2 linked regions of the Homo sapiens genome follow. The protein of the gene in region 2 purifies or fractionates together with the protein of the main gene of each other region. This does not show direct contact. Each region holds a gene or a part of one and is shown on either strand. Other genes may lie near its edges.

Region 1 (7,670 bases), on a different chromosome or scaffold from region 2:
ATACCCCTGGACTCAAGAATCTAGAACTGTCACCTCTAGCTTTAAGTGAGGAGCTAAAGAGGCTACTCAACCTGCTCTATTCACAGAGGCCACCTTCTCCTACCTCCCTCACATCCTGTGTTGTTTATTGGCAGTCCTCCCAGCCTGAGAAGTCTTTCAAGGATTGGAACACTGCCCCAATCAGGGCAGCATACGCTTCAGAGAAATAGTAAAGTCTGACCAACCTGGAGAGCTCCTGCATGAGGCCCAACCCCTAACCCATCCCTCTAAGGGCCAGCTCTCCAGCAGCACAGGAGGCCAAGCAGAGCTGGGAACACCTTACCTTGCTTCCACTGACAGTATGGAACTTTTTCTCCAGAACCTTCTTCACGGGTTCTTCTTCTTTAAAGGTGATAAACACAAAACCTCGTCTTTTGTTCAACTTTGGATCCATTGGCAATTCAATGGCCTCAATCTGCAAAAAGCATAGGCAAACTCAGGCCCAATACCTCCCTACCCCAGAGCATATAGGGGACTCACAGGAGAAAAGACCCCATTGAAGACAGAGGGTGAAAAATAAGCCCTGCCTGGGAGGGTCTAGCCAGCCAAGGATACCAAGGACCAGAAAGAAGGCAGCCTTAGGGGCAGCTGATGGGCTATTCCCAGAGCCACACTCACCTCCCCAAACTCGCCAAAGTACTCCCTGATCTTTTCCTCAGTGGCTTCAGGATTCAGACCCCCAACGAAGATTTTCTTCACCGGGTCCTTCTTCATAGCCATGGCCTTTTTAGGGTCAATGACACGGCCATCCAGCCTGTGCTCCTTCTGGTCTAGGACCTGTTCCAACAGAAAGGGGTCAGGCTGACTCAGCAGCACGAGCCAGACAAGGCCCTTCTCTCTAAGCCATAAAGACACCAGTACAGATACAAACATGTGTTTCACCCCCTCCAAATTCTACCCCAGCTTAACCTCCCAACCCAATTTTCATCAAACCTCAAGTACAGCTGGTTTACCTCGACACCTAGAAAACAGTCCTCACACTTAAGCCTTTGATCATGCTCTTCCTGCCCAAGCAGTCCCAGCGTGAGGCCCATCTCCAGAAGCGAAGCAGCAGGGACTCGGAGCATAGGCTGAAGATGGGCCACAGGGGAAGGAATCCTCCCTCCACTCCCTACTAGCTGTGACCTCTTCTACTTACATTTCTGAGCCTTAGGGTTTTGGTTTTTGTCCTGTAAAATGGGGCTAAAAGCCTATCATACCAATCATGGACTCTCTTGTAATCCTCCCAGATGTTTAGCGCCGTACCCAGAATAGGCACATAAAAGGTAATGAATGTCAACTGTCATCTTCCCGAACCACTCCAGCACATTCTCTCACTCCCAGCTTAATCTGTATTTTCATCCCCTCAAAAACCGGAACATAACCTCCGGCTTTGGGTTTTGCCCAAAGCACTTAAATCACATGCAGACCACACAAACTAGTCATGCTTTAAGAAAGGTGTCCTCTTAGAATTCAAATCGTTTCCACTGAGACTGCTGAAATCCAGTACCCAGCTTACCTTCTCCACACTGGCTGCATCTTTGAACAGGATAAACCCAAACCCTCTTGACCGTCCAGTGTTGGGATCCATTTTTATTGTACAGTCAACGACCTCTCCAAATTTAGTAAAATAGTCTTTTAAATCTTTTTTGCTAGTATCCCAGCTCAGGCCACCAACGAACATTTTTCTGAAATGGTAGGGTGAGACACACGGCAACAAGTCTTGTAAGCAAGCTGTGATTTTGGAAAGGACTGGCCCTGGCAAAGTTCTCACGAAGTCTACAGCTACCCTTAGAGTCTGCAAGGAGCACCTTAGAAAGATGTTAAATCTCCACTACCCTCCAAATTGAACTCAACCAGGACCCTAACGAGGCTTAACAAGGCTCTGCAGCCCCAGCCTGTGAGAAGCAAAGAAGGGACCACCTCACCAGGGGTATGGGACCTAACCACTCATAACTGGAAATTCATGTGTTCTACAACCATGTAGCAAAGGGCCAGCGTCTCCACCAACTCCTGAGAACTCGTTTCAAGGAACTCGATGTTTCCGGGGACCAAGCCCGCCCAGGGTTCAGACCGTGACTCCGCCCCCGGGAGAGGCGGAGGAGGGAGGTCCGGGCCCCGGCTCGCGCCAACTCCGCCCACGCAGCCGCCGGCGCGGCCCAAGACGCCGCCGGGCCCCGGGTCCGAGCGCTTTCCCTCTTCCGGGCCATCCGCCCGCCCCTGCGCCGGCTCCGGCCCTGGCCCTGGCCCTGGCAGCGCGCGAGCGGCCCCGGGGCGGCGCCAAAGTCGACCCAACAAACTCCCGCAAACTCCAGCGCGAGTGGCAGCGCCAGGCCCGGCCCGCGAACGCAGCGGCGACAGTCCGCGGGCCGCACCAGCCCCGACCCGGGCCAGGCCGCCGCCCCTCCCCCCGCCGCGTGGCGCCAACAAAAGGCGGCCCCGGAACAAAGGCGGCGCCCCCGTCCGCCCGCGGCCGCACCTACCCCGCGTCCTCCTCGTTCTTGCTGGCGTTGATCTGGTCGCCCTCGGCGCCGTTCTGATTCCCGCTCGGGGGCGCCGCGGTCGCGCCTCCAGCCCCCGCCGCGGCGCCCGTGCCAGCCCCGGCCGGCGACTCGCCTTCGGGGACGGCCTCATGTCCGTTCTCGGTGGCGCCCGTCGTCTCCATGGGCTGCTCCTCGCCCGCTTCCGACATGCTAGGCCGAGGCGCGGCGGCTCCTGCAACCAGCGGCGACAGCGCGTCAGGCCGGCGCGGCTCCCGCCAGAGCTCCCGCCCGCCGGCCGCCGCTCACCTCGCCGCCGATGACGCCGCGGGGCCCGCTCGTCCCCACCCGCAGGGGAAGGCGCCGCAGGCTCGGCCGCACTCAAGCTCGCGCTGCTGAGGCCTCGCCCCAGTCAGCCCACGGAGCTGCTCCAACTGTGTCTCCTCCTCCTTGGCCGCCGCCGCACGGGAACCCACCGACCAACAGCCAAGCTCCGTCCCGCGCGGTGCCGCCGCCTGACAATGCCGACTCGTGGCGCCCTTTATAATGCCGGAGCCGGGTGCCACATCGCAACAAACTGCACACTCATTGGCTGCTCAAGTCCGTCACTCAACCTAGCTTCAGCGTCCCATTGGCCGCCACGGCGCGCGCGCTCTAGACCTGGGCGGGCTTTGTCCTCATTTTAGAACGCGCGCGAGTCCGGCCGCTACGGAGGGCTCCCGAAGCCGGGCGGGACGGCGCCGGGTCCAGGGCGGCGGGCAGCTACAGCACATCGGTGGGAGGGCCTAATCGGATTGTAAGCTCGTCGAGGCCGCTGGTCTCTTGCTCTCGAGGACTCCATCCCAGCATTGGCAGCCTCCGCCTCCCCATGTCCCAAAAGAGGAAACTGGGCTGGAGAAAGTTTCGCAGCCCAAGGACGCGTGGCTGGAAGTGGCAGAACCCGGGCTTCCGAGGTTGGGCGAGTGGGGTCCTCCAAGGCCCTCAGCACGGGTCGGAGGGATTGGGACTGAACCCGCCATCCCCCTGGACCTTGGTGCCCTCCAAGCCCCGCGCTCGCGCCCTGTCCGTCGCCTCCCCCAGAGATGCTCTGCAGGGACGATGAGACCTTGGTGTTCCCCGGTTCTCTGTCCCCTGGCACCACCTGAACGATTGACATCGCATTTGTACTTTTGTTTACTTAAATTTTTTCCTGTAAATCATTTGTCTTTCTTTTTCTTCCTTTTTATTATTTTTTTTTTTTTGATGGAGTCTTGCTCTTGTCGCCCAGACTGGAGTGCAATGGCGCGATCTCGGCTCACCGCAACCTCCGCCTCCCGGGTTCAAGCGATTCTCCTGTCTCAGCCTCCCGAGTAGCTGGGATTACAGGCATGCGCCACCACGCCCGGCTAATTTTTTTGTTTTTTTAGTAGAGACGGGGTTTCACCATGTTGGCCAGGATGGTCTCGATCTCCTGACCTCGTGATCCGCCCGCCTGGGCCTCCCAAAGTACTGGGATTACAGGCGTGAGCCACCGCGCCCGGCCTTTTTTTTTTTTTTTTTTTTTTTAAACAAATACGGAGGCCGGGCGCGGTGGCTCCCGCCTGTACTCCCAGCACTTTGGGAGGTCCAGGCGGGCGGATCACGAGGTCAGGAGATCGAGACCATCCTGGCGAACATGGTGAAACCCCGTCTCTACTAAAAATACAAAAAAATTAGCCGGGCGTGGTGGTGGGCGCCTGTAGTCCCAGTTACCGGGAGGCTGAGGCAGGAGAATGGCGTGAACCCGGGAGGCGGAGCTTGCAGTGAGCCGAGATCTCGCCACTGCACTCCAGCCTGGGCGACAGAGCGAGACATCGTCTCAAAAACAAAACAAAACAAATACACCACTCGTGAACTCACGAGGTAAAGGACAGGGTGGGGGCGTTGTTCTCTTCCTAATACACAAAACTCCTTTATATTATCTCCTTGACCACAAAATTTTAAAGGCCTCGGTAATCCCGTTATTCCTTTTAATCATATGGGTGGTGGGCCCCAAGGCAAGCAGGATTACAACCTCTGGAGCCTGCAGGTTACCAAATAGCAACCCAGAACACAAGGAACTAGCGTTTCCAGTGGATTCCTGCAGCCAGGACCAGTGTGGTGGGCTGGGCATTCCATTTTCTCTTCTGTATCTTAACAACCAAAGTAAGGTGGTATGGTCACCAATTTTATTTATTTTATTTTTTGACACAAGGTTTTGTTCTGTAACCCAGGCTGGAGTCCAGTGGCACGATCACGGCTTACTGCAGCTTCAACCTCCCGGGCTCAAATGAGCCTCCTGCCTCAGCCTCCCAAGTAGCTGGAACCAGAAACGTGGCCACCACGCCAAGCGAATTTTTTGTAAACACAGGGTCTCCCTATGTTGCCCAGCTAGATCACCAGGTTTTTTTTTTCTTTGAGACGGGGGTCTCGCTCTGTCGCCCAGGCTGGAGTACAGTGGAGCCATCTCAGCTCACAGCAACCTCCACCTCCCAGGTTCTAGCGATTCTCCTGCCTCAGCCTCCTGAGTAGCTGGGATTGCAGGTGTGTTCCACCATGCCGGGCTAATTTTTGTATTTTTAGTAGAGATGGGGTTTTACCATGTTGACCAGGCTGGTCTTGAACTCCTGATCTCAGGTGGATCACCAATTTTAAATGAGAAAACTGAAGTCAAGAGCAGCGGCCCAAAGCTACACAACCAACTCAGGCACTAACTCCACCCAGGCACTGGAGTTGCCCTGAGAATGAAAAATGAAGATACGTGGATTTCAGGCTTCTCTAGGAAAGTCCGAAGATTTAGCTCACACTGTACTGCCTTCCCCCAAAGTAACAATCAAGTGCAGCTGGGATACCCATACCCAGGTGGGCAAGTGCCCTCTGGTTCACCCCAAGGCCACTCTTCACTGTCCCAGGCTAATTCCATAACAGGAAGTCACATATTTCCACACGACCTTACTCATGTCACTGAGATCTGGCAGCAAGGCTTTCAGGGCGGTCTCTAACAAACTGCTCACCCCACCTCCACCCCAGCCCTTGCCAACCCACAGAAATGAGGGCCAGGGCTGTGGCCTGCAGGAGATGATGGGCACAGCTCCCCAAGCAGTGAAGGTAATTCAGGAAATTAAGTTCAAAGTCAAATAGTGTAGGTGCAGCCCAAAGACATTACTGCAGGCATAAATTCCCTTAATCTTCCACGTGGATTTCTTTAGCACGACTCAGAAACACTTTCAGTGACGTGTAAAGTCTGAGGATACAACATTTGGACAGCGCTTAGCAGTTTGCAAAATGCTTTCACCAACCTTGCTTTACTGGAGCTTCAAAATAGCTTTGTGCAGTTACCCATATTTTATACACAAGAATACTGAAACCACAGCTAAAACTGTGGCCATGAAACCAACACGTCCAACTCCACATTGGGGATTGTTTCCAGGGCTCCTGGCTACTGTGGGACAAGGTGTGTCTGAGCTTCTGAGTTCCTTGATGTAAATTAGATCTCCTATCAAAGATCTAATTTATTCTGAGGCTCAGCTGGGCGTGGTGGCTCACGCCCGTAATCCCACCACTTTGGTAAGCCAAGGCAGGAGAATCCCATGAGGCCAGGAGTTTGAGACCAGCCTGAGCAACATGGTGGAACCCCCATCTCTACTAAAAATACAAAAAAAAGTCTGGGCATGGTGGCCCAGGCCTGTAGTCCCCCCTGCTCGGGAGGCTGAGGCACAAGAATCACTCGAACCTGGGAGATGGAGGTTGCATCGAGCCGAGATCGCACCACTACACTCCAGGCTAAGTGACACAGCGAGACTCTGTCTCAAAATAAATAAATAAATAAATAAAGAATCCTGAAGCTCAAATAAGGTAATGGCTTAGAAAACACTTCATAAACTAGAAAGAACTGCAGGCAGGTAGGGGTCAGTCTCAGCAAAAAATAAAAAATGCCGGGCCGGGTGCGGTGGCTCACGCCTGTAATCCCAGCACTTTGGGAGGCCGAGGCAGGCGGATCGAGACCATCCTGGCTAACACGGTGAAACCCTGTCTTTACTAAAAATACAAAAATTAGCCGGGCGTGGTGGGGGGGCGCCTGTAGTCCCAGCTACTCGGGAGGCTGAGGCAGGAGAATGGTGTGAACCCGGGAGGCAGAGCTTGCAGTGAGCCGAGATCGTGCCACTGCACTCCAGCCTGGGGGACAGAGCCAGACTCTGTCTCAAAAAAATGAAATTACATAAATAAATAAATAAAGCCTTCATATTGTATCCAAGGGTGTTTCTGCCAGAGGCAAGGCACCACACTGTTTGGGAAACAGCAGGAAGTCCTTTTGACACAAGCCTCCCTACTTTTGTTATTAGGTTCAGTTACAGACCCTGAGTAGAGGGCAATTCCATGACAGTGAGGTTCTCAAGTCAGCCAGGAGCTCAGTTACCCCTGAAAATCTCTTAAAAGGCCCATAGAGTATACACTCCCTGGGTTTGGGCTATTCAGAATATATGCATAAAATGTGGACAATCTCCAATCTAGGAAAGGACATACACAAAATGCTTTTGGATTGTTTTTTAATTACATGAATTGATTTTTCTCACATTCTTTTTTTCGGTTTTTTGGCTGAGCCTGCAAGGTGGAAGTTGCATGAGTTAACTACAAATATATCGTGCCTCTGCTGTGGCCAACTCCCGCTGCAGCCACTTTCCCCGCTCCACCAAACTCCAGCTCCCCTGCTTCAGAGGAGTCCTCTAGCCAGATGAATCTTTCTAAAACACAAGTCATAAGATCTGAGAGCTACAGTGAAAAAAGGAAAAACTGAAAATGCAAGTCCCATCTTGTCACTACCTCTGTGTGAAAACCCTGGCTGACTTCCCAGTGCTGTCAGGATGAAGTCTTAGCCTTGACTTCGGGTGAATACGAGTGGGACAGACAGTTGGGGCTCCCAGAAATCTGTGCCCCCACCTTGCCAGCCTCCCCTGCTGTGTGGTCTGTGAGTGGAAGAGTTCCTTTCAGGCTGGGGCCATGGAGACTGGGGGCCTTGTCCAGACTTCCCTTCACCCCGCGACCATGTGTTCTACACGGCTGAGCTACCTCATGGAGAAGAGCTGTTCGGCCCACATCAGATTTGACACAAGCTGAAAATGAACCTGTACTGGGCCTGGCACTGAGATTTGGGATTTTTTTTTTCTCTCAAACTGT
Region 2 (7,018 bases):
AGTGTCTTTGGCTTTTCTAGGTGCACAGTGCAAAGCTCTTGGTGGATCTACCGTTCTGGGGTCTGGAGGATGGTTGTTCTCTTCTCACAGCTCCACTAGGCAGTGCCCCAGTGGGGACTCTGGGAGCTCCAACCCCACATTTCCCTTCTGCAATGCCCTAGCAGATGTTCTCCATGAGGGCCCTGCCCCTGCAGCAGATTTCTGTCTGGACATCCAGGCGTTTCCCTACATCCTCTGAAATGTAGGTGAAGGTTCCCAAACGTCAGTTATTGAATTCTTTGCACCCACAGGCCCAACACCACGTGGAAGCTGCCAAGGCTTGGGGTTTGTACTCTCTGAAGCAACAGCCTGAGCTGTACCTTGGCCCTTTTTAGCCATGGCTGGAGCTGGAACAGCTGGGACACAGGGCACCAAGTACCAAGGCTGCACAGAGTAGCAGCGGGGCTGGGCCTGGCCCACAAAACCATTTTTCCCTCCTAGGCCTCCCTGCTTGTGATGGGAGGGGCTGCTGCCAAGATCTCTGACATGCTCTGGAGACATTTACCCCATTGTCTTGGCGATTAATATTTGGCTCCTTGTTACTTATTTGAATTTCTCTCCAGAAAATGGGTTTTTCTTTTTTATTGCACCGTCATGCTGCGAAGTTTTCAAACTTTTATTCCCTGCTTTCTTTTAAACACGAGTTCCAATTTCAGATCATCTCTCTCAAGTTCAAAGTTCCACAGATCTCTAGGGCAGGGGCAAAATCTCACCATTCTCTTTGTTGAAACATAGCAAGGGTGACCATTGCTCCAGTTCCCAAGAAGTTCCTCTTCTCTTTTTCAGACCACCTCAGCCTGGGCTTCATTGTCCATGTCACTATCAGCATTTTGGTCAAAAGCATTCAGCAAGTCTCTAGGAAGTTCCAGACTTTCCCACATCTTCCTTCTTCTAAGCCCTTCAAACTGTTCCAACCTCTGCCTACTACCCAGTTCTGAAGTTGCTTCCACATTTTCAGGTTATCTTTATAGCAGTACCCCTGGTACCAATTTACTGTATTCATCTGTTTTCACACTCCTATAAGAACTTCCCTGAGACTGGATAATTTATAAAGGAAAGAGGTTTAATTGACTCACAGTTCCACATGGCTAGGGAGGCCTCAGGAAACTTATCATGACAGAAGCCGAAGGGGAAGCAAGCACCTTCTTCACAAGGTGGCAAGAAAGAAGAGTGAAGGAGGAACTTTCGAACACTTATAAAACCACCAGATCTCATGAGAACTCACTGTCATGAGAACAGCATGGAGGAAATTGCCCCCATGATCCAGTCACCTTCCACTAGGTTCCTCCCTCAACACCTGGAGATTACAATTCAAGATGAAATTTGTGTGGGGACACAAAGCCAAACCATATCAATGGACATTTGGGTTGTTTCCAGTTTGGGGCTATTACGAATTTAGCTACTATGAACATTCACACAAAAGTCTATGGCAACATAAGACCCAGTAGAATTGCTGGGTCTTAGAGTCAATATATATGTAATTTTAGTGGAAATGGTCAAACTTCTTTCCCAAAGGGTAACCAAACCATTTTGCATTCCCATCAGTGGTGCATGAGAGATCTACTTGCTAAACTTGCCAGCACTTTAAGTCTTTAATTTTGGCCATTCTTTTGTGACTAAAGATACTGATAATGCTGAAGCTATTGAGCTGTATCTTATTGTGGTTTTAATTTGCATTACCCTTATGATTCACAATGTTGAGCATTTTCTCATGTGCTTATTAGCCATCTGTTTTAGTCAGTTCAGGCTGCTGTAAAAAAATACCAAAGACCAGGGAGCTTAAACAACAAACATTTATTGCTCCCAATTCTGGAGGCTGGGAAGTCTGGTGAGGGCTGTCTTCCTGGTTTGCAGATGACTGTCTTCTCCTTGTGCCCTTACATGGCCAGAGGCAAATCTCTCGTTTCTTCTTATAAAGGCACTAACTCCATTCATGAGAGTTCTGCCCTCCTGACCTAATCTCCTCCCAAAGGTCCCACCTCCCAATACCACATACATTAGGATTCAACATAGGAATTTTGGGGGGACGCAAGCGTTTGGACCACAGCATCATTCGTGTTGACTCTGACAGTGGCTCTTTTCAACTCTGCCTCCATTTTTCTTCTTACCTATTTTGATTTTTATATGTGGTGTGAGATGGGGAAAGTTTGATTTTTTTTTGTCTTAGAGATGAGCATCATTCATGGAAAAGACTGCCCTTTGCCTCTGGGCCATAGCTCTGTGTTCCCTCGAGTCAGGGTCTCTGTTGGTACAGGTATGCTTCTGGGCTTTCTCTTGTGCCCCATTGTTCAATTTAACTTTGAGCCAGTGCTACGTTGCCTTAATTTCCATAGCTCTGTAAGGAAGGCTTGGTAACTCATAGATGAAGCTTTCTGTTTATTCTTTTTTTTTTTTTTTTTTTTTGAGACAGAGTCTTGCTCTGTCACCCAGGCTGGAGTGCAGTGGCGCGATCTCGGCTCACTGCAACCTCCGCCTCCTGGGTTCAAGTGATCCTCCTGCCTCAGCCTCCCAAGTAGCTGGGACTACAGGTGCATGCCACCATGCCCGGCTAATTTTTCTATTTTTGGTAGAGATGGGATTTCGCCATGTTGGCCAGGCTGGTCTCGAACTCCTGACCTGAGGTGATCCACCCGCCTCGGCCTCCCAAAGTGCTGGGATTACAGGCGTGAGCCACCGCGCCTGGCCCTCTGTTTATTCTTTTTAAAGATAGTGTCTTGGCTATTCTGGATTGTTTGCATTTTTATATATCTTTTAGAAAGATATATATATGCCTCATATTCAGCAACTGTGCCAAACTCACTTTTACTAATTATCTTTAGATTCTTTTGGGCTTTCCTGTATATATGGACATAGCATCTGTGAATAATGAGTTTTATTTCTTTTTCAGTCCTTATACCTTATATTTATTTGGCAAGGATTTATTAATTTTCTGTCTCTTCAAAGAACCACCTTTTGGTTTCATTGATTTTTTTTTTTCTGTATGTTTGCTTACTGTTTTATTAATTTCCCCAGTCTCACTCTGGTTGCCCACTGGACTCCAGCCTGGGCAACCAGAGTGAGACCCTGTCTCAAAACTAAGCAACAAAGTAACCAGCAGGAACAGTTTGGAAAGACAGTGTACCCCTTATGTTTGCTTTTGCATTTGTAAAAAGAAAAAGAAAAAGAAAAGTCTATGTTTTGTTGGTATAAAGAACTATTTGGGCCGGCGCGGTGGCTCATGCCTGTAATCCCAGCACTTTGGGAGGCCGAGGCTGGCGGATCACGAGGTCAGGAGATCTAGACCATCCTGGCTAACACGGTGAAACCCCGTCTCTACTAAAAATACAAAAAATTAGCTGGGCGTGGTGGTGGGCGCCTGTAGTCCCAGCTACTTGGGAGGCTGAGGCAGGTGAATGGCATGAACCTGGGAGGTGGAGCTTGCAGTGAGCTGAGATCACACCACTGCACTTCAGCCTGGGTGATAGAGTGAGACTCCGTCTCAAAAAAAAACAAAAAAAAAACAAAAAAACTTTGTGTAGTTGTTATCAGAACCGTTATTGTACTAGGTATTCACTTTGGGCAAACAGAATTTTCACTTGTTAATATGCATATTCTATGGTTTATAGGCTTATATATTTTGTAAAGGTGTTTTGTTAAAATGACAATGTAACATTTATTCTGTTTGGTAATGGTTTTACTTATTAATTTTATAGAATTAACACTGAATCCTCCGGAAGGAATTGTAGCAGGTAAGGTACCAAAGTTAACTTCCTTATAATTTACTTTTAATTGCCAAAGTTCCTTCAAAGTTAAAATGTTGTGAAATTTTTTCTCACCCTACAGGCCCCATGAATGAAGAGAACTTTTTTGAATGGGAGGCATTGATCATGTAAGTTAATTTTAGGTGTACTAGTTTTTAGGGCTTTGCTGGAAGTCAGATGTAAGAATCACATCAGCAGTGTGACTGTGTCCAAAAGCATCAGCTGGAAAAAAGACTGAGTTCTCCAGTAATGCCCAGCTCTCGTCTAGGCTGCTGGTCTGAAAGCAGAGAACCTGAGCATTGATCCAAAAGAAATGAGTGTTTCCTTAGAGCCAGTCAAAGGTTTAGTTATAATTATGTAATATATGTATTATATATTTGAGAGTTTTAAGGTGGTAATTTTGGAATGTTGTATGATCGTGGTTAAAATAACCTCAAATGGCGTAGGTGGCTTTGGCTTCCAGAAGTAGCCCCTTCAGGTGTGAAATTTTGACGAGAAAAGGGTCCTCAAAGATGTGTCTGACCACACCAGGCATGTTAGCGCAGCCTTGCCTGCCCTGCCTTTGGGCCAGGACTTCTTTTTCTTCTCCTTTCCTCCCAGTTCGTATCTTCGTGTGCTGCATCTCCTTTTTCTGTTGCCTTGTCTGGACTTGTTGGCCTTGTGTTCTTTCCGACCCAAGACATGGCTTAGTAAGTGAGCAGTGTGGTTCTGGGATTCGTGGCATTTAACTTAGGGTGACGTTGCTTGGAAAGAGAAACACATGGACCCCTGATTTTAGAGTGTTCTATGGCCTTGACTCACTTTGCTTTTTCTTCTTTCTACCTTAGATGTGCAATTTTTGGCCATTCTTAGTGTATTTTCAGCAAAGTGAGGTTAAATAAAATTTAGGAAGTTGAAATTTGTAATCAGTCTCTGTTTTCTTTCTTTTCTTTTTCTTTCTTTCTTTTTTTTTTTTGAGATGGAGTTTCGCCCTTGTTGCCCAGGCTGGAGTGCGGTGGCACAACCTTGGCTCACTGCAACTCCTGCCCCTTGGGTTCAAGCGATTCTCCTGCCTCAGCCTCCCTAGTAGCTGGGATTACAGGTACCCACCACCGTGCCTGGCTAATTTTTGTATTTTTAGTAGAGACAGGGTTTCCCCATGTTGGCCAGGCTGGTCTCGAACTTCTGACCTCAGGTGTTCCGCCTGCCTTGGCCTCCCAGAGTGCTGGGATAACAGGTGTGAGCCACCGCGCCAAGCCCAGTCTTTGTTATCTCATTAGTGAGGTCTTTTAATTTGCAGCAAGGTCTTGGGTTGGATTTTGTTGCATTGAGAAGTGCTCTAGAGGGCAAGGACCGGAAAAGTGAGGGCTGTGAAACAAGTGTGGGCTCTGGCTTGAAGTGATCTTAAGCTTCATGATGCTTTTGGAATTCGCCAGTTGCTTGGATCACATTAATTCTTAATGCTCTATGGGTTGGTCTGAGAAACAGATTGCAGCTAAGTGTTGTCTGTGGAGGTTAAATTGATATGAAAATTAGTATTTTGGATAAACAAAATGTTTTTAAAAAATCATCAAACGCTATTCAGATGGTACAGCACGCCTGCCATTTCCTGATCATTTGTAATATCCTAATTGCTTGGGCCTATGGCACATGTTTTTTCGGTGTCTGAAGGTTTCTGGAATCTGTGTTTGTGTGTAATGTGGCCCCCAAGGCAGTTATGAGATGGATGGCGAGTCCCACAGTCTGGGCTGTCCTCATTAGTGGACTGTGCGGCTGTATACTTGTATCGGGGCAGCTCTTTTTATTTCTGTAGAAGCAGGAGATCATATACATGAACTGATGTGTAACCTGCTTGTTTCATGTGTTAATGCAGGCGCACCTGCACTCATGCCAGCGGGGCAGCACGCCTGCTGCAGGGGCCCAGAGTGGCGGGAGGCCTGTCTGTGTGTAGAGGTTGAAGGCGCCTGTCGTGTCTGCAGTTATTTGTGGGGTGTTGGCTCCTCCGTAGGCCTATTTGGAAGCTCATTAAAGGAACAGTTGAGCCGTCCAGTGTGGTTTTAAAAAAATGTTCATTGTTAAAAATCGATTAGGGTAACTATTACCAATTTTAAATAAACAGTGTAAAATTAAACCAATATTTTGAAAACCTGTCTTAAAAAGTAATTAGAACTATTTTTAGGTAGAGCACTTCTGTGTTTGAACAAGGCTTTTTGCATTAGTTTGGAATTCCCCTGCTTGAAGATCCTAGTGAGTTTGTGGGTTTTGGTCCTGTTCCAGACCCTTCACAAACAAGAGGCCGTTTACAAGTGCACTTAAAATGCCTATTAGGGAATTAACTGTCCTCCCATCGATTTGTCTCACCCTGCTATTTTGGCAGACATCTGGCCAAGTCTTTGCTCCTTGGTGATAAGTTTCTTCTTTTTCTCTTTATTCTTTGATGGCTTCCAGGGCCGCCTCTCTACCCTAGTATTTCTAAAACCCGTGCTTGCCTCACAGAAGTCGAACGGCTGTTGGTTTTTGCTGTTGTGCTTGCCTTAAGGGCCAGTGAAGAAAATGTCATTTTAGATATCTAAGCAACAAACACTAAGTGCCTTTGATATGTTAGGGCCCTTGTCTGAAGATACAGACATGTCAAAGATGCACTGAAATCTTTACCTTGGAAGACCAGGGTTGAGGGATTAGGATGGAGAATAGAACAGATTAGTGAATGAGAGGACTAAATAATGAGAGTCCGCAGGCTGTGTCTTTAAACACCGGGAATAACTCTGCTGACCCTGCCACGCTCATGGTGGAGTCTGAGCCTGCAATCAAATCGAGCGTGGCTGGGATGGCGGCACACCAGGGGATGTGGCCACCGTGGCTGTGGGTGCTAGCATGGCCTGCTGCTCTTGGCCCAGTCACTTTGCCTCTCTTTGACTTATTTGGATCAAAACAGAGAGGTTTATCAGCATCTTCTAGACAGATGGTTACAGGTCTTGCCCAGCTCTAGGGTCCATGGCCCGTGACCCCATTGCCACTAAGCCACGGTGACGGGGGTGTAGCTGCAGAGAGGGTGGGTGCCCTCTTTCATTGATGCACTTATGTGGGACAGAAGGAGTCCTAGACAGCTGTTCATCCCCAGTGGCCGGACAAGGCGTGGAGTCCCTTGGCGCTTGCTGTCCTCTGTGTCCTGCCCCAGCATTCCCAAATCAGCTGGCTTGGTGACCTTCTTGTCTGGTTCATGCCTGACTGCTGTCACCTCCCCAGACCAGTGGTTCTAG

Evidence for each region. The genes of interacting proteins can lie anywhere in the genome.
Region 1: the proteins of UBE2G2 (region 2) and HNRNPAB purify together in Homo sapiens (affinity purification with mass spectrometry; 2 studies listed by BioGRID, with this or other methods). This does not show direct contact.

What each region holds. Positions count from the first base shown.
Region 1 is NC_000005.10:178,199,878-178,207,547, reverse strand, and holds the start of HNRNPAB (heterogeneous nuclear ribonucleoprotein A/B), read right to left. Parts: upstream 3,016-7,670; 5' UTR 2,808-3,015; exon of another isoform or gene 2,734-2,807; 5' UTR 2,711-2,733; coding exon 2,502-2,710; intron 1,707-2,501; coding exon 1,538-1,706; intron 817-1,537; coding exon 658-816; intron 455-657; coding exon 323-454; exon of another isoform or gene 1-322. UniProt on the Homo sapiens protein: Binds single-stranded RNA. Has a high affinity for G-rich and U-rich regions of hnRNA. Also binds to APOB mRNA transcripts around the RNA editing site.
Region 2 is NC_000021.9:44,784,809-44,791,826, reverse strand, and holds part of UBE2G2 (ubiquitin-conjugating enzyme E2 G2), read left to right. Parts: intron 1-3,731; coding exon 3,732-3,767; intron 3,768-3,861; coding exon 3,862-3,907; intron 3,908-7,018. UniProt on the Homo sapiens protein: Accepts ubiquitin from the E1 complex and catalyzes its covalent attachment to other proteins. In vitro catalyzes 'Lys-48'-linked polyubiquitination. Involved in endoplasmic reticulum-associated degradation (ERAD).